Linked DNA regions of Homo sapiens. The gene in region 2 interacts genetically with the main gene of each other region. Each region holds a gene or a part of one and is shown on either strand. Other genes may lie near its edges.

Region 1 (3,487 bases), on a different chromosome or scaffold from region 2:
TCCATGCCAGTACTTTGCTTCCTTTGCCTCTGGGCACGGGCCCAGGATTTTGACAGCAATAATAATTTGTTTACATGATAACCTTAACACAGGATTGACTTCAAAAGGAATTTGGGAGACACTTTGTGGTATTAGTAAGAATTCAGATTCAATCGATGCCAGTGGGGACACCACATTTTCTAGAAGAATCTGTGTTTTTTTGTTTTTTTAATAGAGACGAGGTCTCACTATGTTGCCGAGGTTCATGAACTCCTGAGTTCAAGTGATCCTCCCAAAGTGCTAGGATTACAGGCATGAGCCACCAGGCCCAGCCTGAATCTGTGGTCAAATTTTTATCAGTGAGCAGAGTATGTTTTTTCCATTTTTCCCTTTCTTCTCTGAACAGTAGGGGCCTTTGTTGATCCCAGTTTTCCTTAGATGTAGAGTGGATGGGGGATTTGATTGTTTAACAATATTCTTTTTTTTTTTTTTTTGACTGAGTCTCTCTGTCGCCCAGGCTGGAGTGCAGTGGCGCTATCACAGCTCACTGCAACTTCCGCCTCCTGGGTACATGCCATTCTCCTGCCTCAGCCTCCCAAGTAGCTGGGACTACAGGCGCCCGCCACCACGCTCGGCTAATTTTTTGTATTTTTAGTAGAGACGGGGTTTCACCGTGTTAGCCAGGATGGTCTCGATCTCCTGACCTCGTGATCCAGCCGCCTCAGCCTCCCAAAGTGCTGGGATTACAGGCGTGAGCAACCGCGCCCGGCCCTACAATATTCTTACAAAGCTGATTCTTCAGACCCACCCTCCATAGGATGTGCACACTAGTGGAGGTGCTGGAAAGAGTTTGTGCTGCATCATCCTACTCTTTTTCTTTTGATCATCTTTAGTACCTACCAACCTGTATATCAAGGAGCTGACTTATTAATAGTTACCATTTATCGTGCTCTTATTTTGTGCCAGGTCCTTAATATTTTGTTTCATGTCATCCTAGCAACAGCCCTCAGAGGTAGGAGGTATGGCCATTTAGGGATGAGTAAATAGGCTCAGTCTTATCCTTGTTGAGGTTCACATAGCTGTCAGTAGAATCTATCTGATTCCTAAGCCTGATTTTATTTCCATTGCATAATATTGCCTACCATGAGAAAGGAAAAATTTTGATAGAGCAATTTTCATATGCCAGGTATTTGACATCTCCCATTTACACCTCAGAACAACCCTGTAAAGTTTAGGAATTTTTATCATTTTATACAGCTACTTCCTGGAAAAGCCAGAATTTTTTTTTTAAGAGACTCTGGCACCTAGGCTGGAGTGTAGTAGTGCCCTCATGGCTCACTGCAGCCTCAAACTCCTGGGCTCAAGCGATCCTCTTGCCTCAGTCTCCTGAGTAGCTGGGACTACAGGCAAATGCCACCATGTCCAGCTATTTATTTATTTTGAGACAGGGTCTCCATTACTCAAGCTAGAGTGCAGTGGTGCAATCACAGCTCACTGCAGTCTCAACTTCCGAGGCTCAGGTGATCCTCCCACCTCAGCTTCCCAAGTGGCTGGGACTACAGGTGCGTGCAAACATGCTCATGCTCAGCTAATTTTTTTTTTTTTTTTTTTTGAGAGATGAGGCTTCACCATGTTGCCCAGGCTGATTTCAAACTCCTGGGCTCAAGTGATTGACCTACCTCAGCCTCTCAAAGTACTAGGATTACAGGTGTGAGCCACCGTTCCAGGCCCCGGATAACTTCTTTATTTTTTTATAGAGGCAGGGTCTCACTGTGTTGCCCAGGCTGGTCTCAAACTCCTAGGCTCAAGTGATTCTCCCACTTCAACCTTCCAAAGTGTTGGGATTACTGGCTGGGTGCAGTGGCTCACGCCTGTAATCCCAGCACTTCAGGAGGCCGAGGCAGGAGGATCATTTGAGGTCAGGAGTTTGAGGCCAGCTGGCCAACATGGTGAAACTCCATCTCTACTAAAACTATAAAAATTAGGCTGGGCGCAGTGGCTCACGCCAGTAATCCTAGCACTTTGGGAGGCCAAGGTGGGTGGATCACTTGAGGTTAGGAGTTCAAGACCATCCTGGCCAATATGGTGAAACTCCATCTCCACCAAAAATATAAAAATTAGCCGGGCCTGGTGGCACACACCTCTAATCCCAGCTACTTGGGAGGCAGAGGCAGAAGAATCACTTTGAACCCAGGAGGCAGAGGTTGCAGTGAGCTGAGATCGTGCCACTGCACTCCAGCCTGGGCAACAGAGCGGGACTCTGTCTCAAAAAAAAAAAAAAAAAAATACACACACACACACTCTCACACACTAGCCCGATGTGGTGGCAGGCGCCTGTAATCCCAGCTACTTGGGAGGCTAAGGCAGGAGAAAAATCGCTTGAACCCAGGAGGCGGAGGCTGCAGCCAACTGAGATCACACCACTGTACTCCAGCCTGGATGACAGAGTGAGACTTCATCTCAAAAAAAAAAAAAAGTGTTGGGATTACAGGTGTGAGCCACTGCTTCCAGCCCCTAGATCTAATTCGAAAGCCCTTATTTTTTTTTCCATCTGCTCTACTGTTCAGCCAAAGATTGTGACTGGAGAGGAGTGTTTTCTTCTAGAGGTAAATAAATGGCCTATATATTATCCAAGGTGGAATTTGGGTCTCTGTAGCACCAGCTTGGACCAGTGTTTGGAGAGCTGAAGCCTCGTCCCACTCCTTATGCTGCAAGATCCATGGAGTTCCAGCCCCCTGGACTTGTGGGGAGCTTGGAGAAGAGAGCCATGAACATCTGCCCACATGGCATTCTCTTCTCTTAGCTTAAGTCACCATGCCTAAGCTTGGGTTCCACTTGGCAGTGAGATGGAGAGAGTGTCCTAAAAGAGATAATGGCAATGACCACCAGGTTGAAAACTGGCCTGGTGAAGAAAAGCAGAAGATTAATTGGGAAAAGAGAAGGCTAAGAGATGATTGGCCCTGGTGGGTGAGGTGCAAAGCTGTTGGCTAGTGTTCCTGGAGATAGGCTTACGTGAAGGTAGGTTGGGCAGAAGAAAGAACTTTGTGTTGGGCATAGAAGAGATTAAGATGAACAATTTGCTCTGTGGAGAACCTTTGGGAAAGGAGCAACTCTGCCTCTCCCAACTGATACAGAAGACTTGGGGAGGTCTCTCAAGTCAATAATTCTGTTCTTAGGCCACTTTTCTCCCTTAATTTATTTCCTGTTCTTTCTCTTTTTAGCTCCCAGGGTTGCTAGAGCTCCTTGTAGAATATTTCCGACGATGCCTGATTGAGATCTTTGGCATTTTAAAGGAGTATGAGGTGGGTGACCCAGGACAGAGAACGCTACTGGATCCTGGGAGGTTCAGCAAGGTGTCTAGTCCAGCTCCCATGGAGGGTGGGGAAGAAGAAGAAGAACTTCTAGGTCCTAAACTAGAAGAGGAAGAAGAAGAGGAAGTAGTTGAAAATGATGAGGAGATAGCCTTTTCAGGCAAGGACAAGCCAGCTTCAGAGAATAGTGAGGAGAA
Region 2 (5,055 bases):
AAAGGGCCGGATGAGGTCCCAGCAAGTTCGGGGGAGCCCCCCCGCCTCCCTCCCACTCACCATTTCTTGGTGCACTCCAACACTAGCTCGTGGTAACAGGCCACGAACTGGAACTTGGCCGCCCGCTTGCCCACGCGCTGCAGGCGCTTCCACACCGAGGTCATGGCCCCCGCCACCCCGCCGCCCACTTCTCAGGCCCGGGGCTCCCGCTGGCCCGCCACCGCTGGCCCGGCCCGGGTCCCCATGGCCTGTCCGCGCCGCCCGCCCCGTCCGTGCGGAGGTGTCCCAGGCTCCGACCCGGGACCGCGCTCTCCGCTGCCGCCGCTGGGGCCCGCAGGGTGGTCTGGCTGAGTCTGCGGGGTCGCCTGGGGCGCGTCGGGTGGCGAGCGCGGAGCTGGGAGCGCGCCGTTTCCTGGAGCCGCACCCCCGTCGGAAGGCGGGCGGGGCTCCGGCGCGGGGCGGGGGCCGGGGCAGGAGCGCGGGGGCGGGGCGACCCGGCTTCCGGGGCCTCGCGCCGCGACCCGGGAGCGGGAGCGGGGGCGGGGGAGGGGGGCGTGGAAGGGGTGTCGCCCGACCGCAGTGCCCGCTCGGTGCGCGCAGAGGCTGCGTGGAGAGAGGGCAACCAGCAACTTGGTGCCACCCTAGAGAGCGCTGCCCGGGCCGCCTTCCTTCCTGCCCGCAGCCCTGGGAGGTACGTACTACTGGCCCCCTTTCAACGGCTGGGAAAACTGAGACCCAGAAAGGGGAAGGGACTTGCTCAGAGTCATACTGTGAATGTGGACGAGGACCAGCTCTCAACTCCAAGGTGCAGCCACCCACGTCTTAACCAGAGCAGGAAGGCGTCAGTAACCTCGGTGGCCCAACCTCAGAACCTGACTCTGCTGTCAAGGGGGAAGATAATCCCAAACCCCGACAAGTAGCTGGAGAATCATAACTGACCTCCAACCAAGTGTGACTTTGGGCAAAGCGCTAACACTCTGAGCCTCAGTTTCAACGTCTATTAAATGGGGATAATTGTAGTTCCGCCTTTTAGGGAATCCCTGAGAGGATGAACCTCAGAAGGCATTTAGCAGAAAGCCTGGCTGATTTTGCCATGCCTCCTTATTAAATGGGATGCGCTATAATGGATGGGGAAAACGTGTCATTTTTGTGTATGTTTACTCTCCCTCCCCAGGAAAGCCTGCCTGGAGCGTTAGCAGCTGTGAACCCCTAGATTAGAGCCCTTATCGCCTACCCACCCGCCCTGCATGGTAATGAGCCTCTGCAGGTGTCAGCTGCCCTGGGGCAATAGGTCAGTTTGTTCCTTCCCGCTGCTCTGCAAGGTGTGTAAATGGACAGGAGCCCGGTGCGTGACTGCTACTTGGTTTAACGGGATGTCTGAGTGCCAGGACTGCCATCTGGGCTGCATCTCCAGGAGGCAAATGGCTGCAGCAGGGCGCGGGGATGTGCTGTTCGTCCGCACACCTCGGTGTGCGGCTTCACCTCTTTTCAGGAGGTTGTGAGGTGTCGTGTGCGCGTGTAGGGGGCTGAGTACCCACTGTCTCCGAACGTGCTGGCTTCTTCCGGTGGGCTTGACAACTGGGTTTGGTTCTCAGTCCCAGCGGTGTGGGTCCCCGGTTTCCTAAGAAACCTTCCACAGATAACTGTAAAGACCGCTAGTGCTGTGGGGAGAGCCGGCGGTCTTCACAGACTGAGCGGGGAATACGGGTCCCTGGAACCCCAATCAAACTTCACCGCCGCGGAGTCTCATGCTTGGCCTCCGGGAAGGCCCGAGGTGCCGCGACTTCACTCCCCTCGGCCTCTGCCACCCCTCCCTCCCACCCGCGGGGCGTGAGGTCCCAGGCCGTTCCCGGAGGCGCCTCCCCCGCCCCCGCCGGGGCCCCTTGCTCCGGCGACTCCGGCCACCCATTTCCTGCGCCGCCTCAACCCCGCCCCGCGCGGGGTGGAAAGTTTCCCTCCTCAAGGTGGGCGGCTCCTTCTCCTTCCTTCCCGGCAGGCAGGGAAAGCCCGAAGCGAACTGGGAGGAGGGAGCGGGGGACTCGGAGGTCGCGGGCGAGAGAGGGGAAGTGACTCGACCGCAGTCACCCGGCGGCTGAGCCAGGCTCGGCCAGCAGGCAGCGCCCCCAGCCCCGCCCCGGCGGGACGGCAGGGCCTTCACTCGGCGCGGGGCGGGGGGGGAGGGGGTCTCGGGCGCCACCTGCTGGCAGAGCGCGGGGCCGCACCTGCCACAAACACCGCGGTCTTCCCGCCCCAGAGCCAGCCAGGCAGAGCACAACGACGCTGAGTGTATTTATTTATCTACGCGCCCTGGAGACCGGCCCCTAAATTTAAATATCCAGCACGGGGCCTTGGCCCTCCTGGCCGTGGGTGGTTATTGGGACGGGTCCTGGAGCCCTTCCAGGGCAGAGGAACCCAGAGCCCGGAGGTGGGATGCCCCTGAGCCAGCAGCTGCCGATAGCAACAAAAGGTGAGGAGGAGATGGGAGCCAGGCACTCATCCCAATCCCAGAGACGCCAAGCGGAAGGGAAGATGCTTCGGGCCCCACCGCAAGGCTGAGGGTTGGCCAAGCTGGGGGTGCACACATGTGGAAGAACTGGAGGCCCAGTGCCATGAGCAGAGGCTGTACCCTAGATGCCCGCCCCAGTGCCAGCCAACCCAAGACAGGAGAAAGAGTTTGGCAGTTTCGCCTCTGAGGAATACATGCCTGGCCCTCCTGTGAGGTGAGGCGGTAGGGGGGAAGGCGCAGGCTCCGAAGTCTGAGGGCTTGCCGGAGGGGGAGTTTCTGAGCCTTTTGCATGGGTGCATGCCCCCTGCCCCCCAGCCCTTCAGAGGCTGATGTGGAAGGCATCCTGCAGCCACTGGTCACGGGCATTGTGCGTCTGGGGCACAGTAAGGGGTGGCGGGTCAGGAGGCAGGCTGGCATCGGGAGGCTCCTCGTCGTCAGACAGGCCCGCATCCGGTGGGTAGGAGCTGTCCGAATGGAGGGAGGATGACAGGTCCTGGCAGAAGCTCAGGTCTTGGCACAGGTGTTTGTAGTCCTGGATTGACTCGTACAGGCCCCACAGCTGGCACAACAAGGACATGTCCAACTGCCGCAGCCCCACCTGCAGACAACTGAGGGTGGGCTGGAGTTGGGGTCCAGGCCACCCCAGCCCAGCCCCGCCCCCTGGAATAGTGGGCCCCAGCCCATCTTCCCCGCACCTTCCTAAACGAAGTTTTTGTGGACATCAGGCACCACCTGCAAGCTATGCAACTTTAGTCATGACCCTCACCCAAAAAATGGGGTTATCCATTTAGCCGGATGAAATGAAGTAACGTCAGCAAAACATTTGAAAATATATGGTAACTACTGCCATAATTGGTAACTATCACTAATTATTGTTACCATAACCCTTGCAACCCAACTGGTGCCTGCAAGTCCTCTGAGACCCAGGCCGCCTGTCCCAGTCCCCTGCGTTCCTCCGCGTCAGCCCCCCGCCCAGCTGGCCCGGCGCCCACCCACTCACCATCTCCTTGCGCAGCGCGGCCAGCGCTGAGTCGAGGTTGACAGGACGACGCGGGCCGGCTGCGGGTCCCGCGTTGGCGGCGCCGGCGGCGTGGCGGGGCCCGTCCGGGGCGCGGGCGGCGCGGCTCAGCTCGTCGTGGATGCGGCTGCGCTGGCTGTAGACGCGCTCCAGCTCCCGCCACGAGCCCCCGCTCGCATTAAGGAGGCCGCTGAGGCCGCGCGGCAGCGGTGGGAGCCCGGCCAAAGCGCAGCCCGCCCCGCCCGGCGCCTCTGCCGAGGGCAGCCCGTTCATGGCCGGGGCCGGCGCGGACGGCGATGCCACCTCCTTCCCTCCAACGCTCCGCCCGGGCCGCCGCCCGCAGGCCCCGCACCCCGCGGCCCCGCCGGAGCCCAGCCGCCGCCCGCAGGCCTCGCTTTGTTCCTTCCCCAGCTCCTCAGACTCCGCCTCTGCCCCACCCCCTCTGGATGGGCCGGGCCTCTCTTAAAAAGGCAACGGTTGTGGGACCACGTCGCGCAAAGCTGAGAAAAGGCAACGGGACATCCACTCACTCAAGGGGAGATGGAAAAATGCGGCGGAGGGGGGAAAAGGCTGAAGGGGGCAGGCGTGGTTTCTTCACGGTTCTTTTTGCTACCCCGTCTCCCCGCCGCGCCCCGCCCCGCCCCCACACCCAAGGAAAATGATCTAACAGTGGAGTCAGGAGACTGGCAAGTCCACACTTGGTGCCTAACGTGCCACCTGACGCTGGGGTCACCACAAACTCCTGTCGGTGTCTGAGTACCTGGGGTGGGCATGAGATGGGATAGGCTGATAGGGTCAGGATGCTCAGGGGAAGGAGGGGAATCTATCAAGGGGATCGGAACACAAAACCTCACTTCCAGGTGGGGAATGGACACCAGATGGCGGAAGAGGCTGCAGAGGTGCTGCCAGAGACAAGGCTAGGGTCCACCCCTCTGGCTGCTACCTTTGAAAAGGCTATGGCTTCTTCCTTAGAAAAGGGGCATCACATAGTCCTCTACCTACTCCCTCATCCTGACTGGGGAAACTGAGAAGAAACAAGCTCAACTCATCTCAGGGCGTCAAGGAGAGCAGAGTGGAGAGGTGAAGAGGCCAAAAGCTGGAAAAAGGTGAGTGGAGCTGGGGCTGGCATGCACACTTGGAACCAGGAAAAAAACAAACCACACAGAGGAACAGCTGTTTTTCTAGAGGGTTTTTCTCAGGGGCTTCTCTTAGTGCTGTAGCTGCTGCAGGCTGCGCAGGGCCTCCGCACATGCGCGGATAAGGCCACACAGCTGGATGCTAGTCTCCAGGGAGGTGCTAGAGCCCAGTTCAGCAGAGGCCCAGGTCAGCTTCTGCAAGAGGGCTGTCTGTGTGCAGGCCATGACATCTGTATTTGGAGGCACAGCAGGAGCAGGTGGCCCCTGGGCTGCCTTGAGTCCTGCTGCAGCTCCCTCACAGTGCTCCGGACGAGGTACTGGGGGCTGGGGCGCAGGTCGAGAGCCCAGGGGGAGCTCTGAGGCTGAGGCCAGCTGGTGCTCCCGAGCTTGGGAGA

The links. Genes that interact genetically often act in the same process or in processes that back each other up.
Region 1: changes in FAM89B (region 2) and ARID1A together harm fitness more than expected from each alone (negative genetic interaction), as found in Homo sapiens cells (one large-scale study listed by BioGRID).

Annotation. Positions count from the first base shown.
Region 1 is NC_000001.11:26,775,823-26,779,309, forward strand, and holds part of ARID1A (AT-rich interactive domain-containing protein 1A), read left to right. Parts: intron 1-3,200; coding exon 3,201-3,487. UniProt on the Homo sapiens protein: Involved in transcriptional activation and repression of select genes by chromatin remodeling (alteration of DNA-nucleosome topology).
Region 2 is NC_000011.10:65,571,412-65,576,466, reverse strand, and holds FAM89B (leucine repeat adapter protein 25), read right to left. Parts: upstream 3,930-5,055; 5' UTR 3,798-3,929; coding exon 3,507-3,797; intron 3,115-3,506; coding exon of another isoform or gene 3,105-3,114; coding exon 2,826-3,104; 3' UTR 2,277-2,825; downstream 1-2,276. Other genes in the region: EHBP1L1 (EH domain-binding protein 1-like protein 1), read right to left, coding at 61-164; protein ZNRD2, read right to left, coding at 4,733-5,055. UniProt on the Homo sapiens protein: Negatively regulates TGF-beta-induced signaling; in cooperation with SKI prevents the translocation of SMAD2 from the nucleus to the cytoplasm in response to TGF-beta.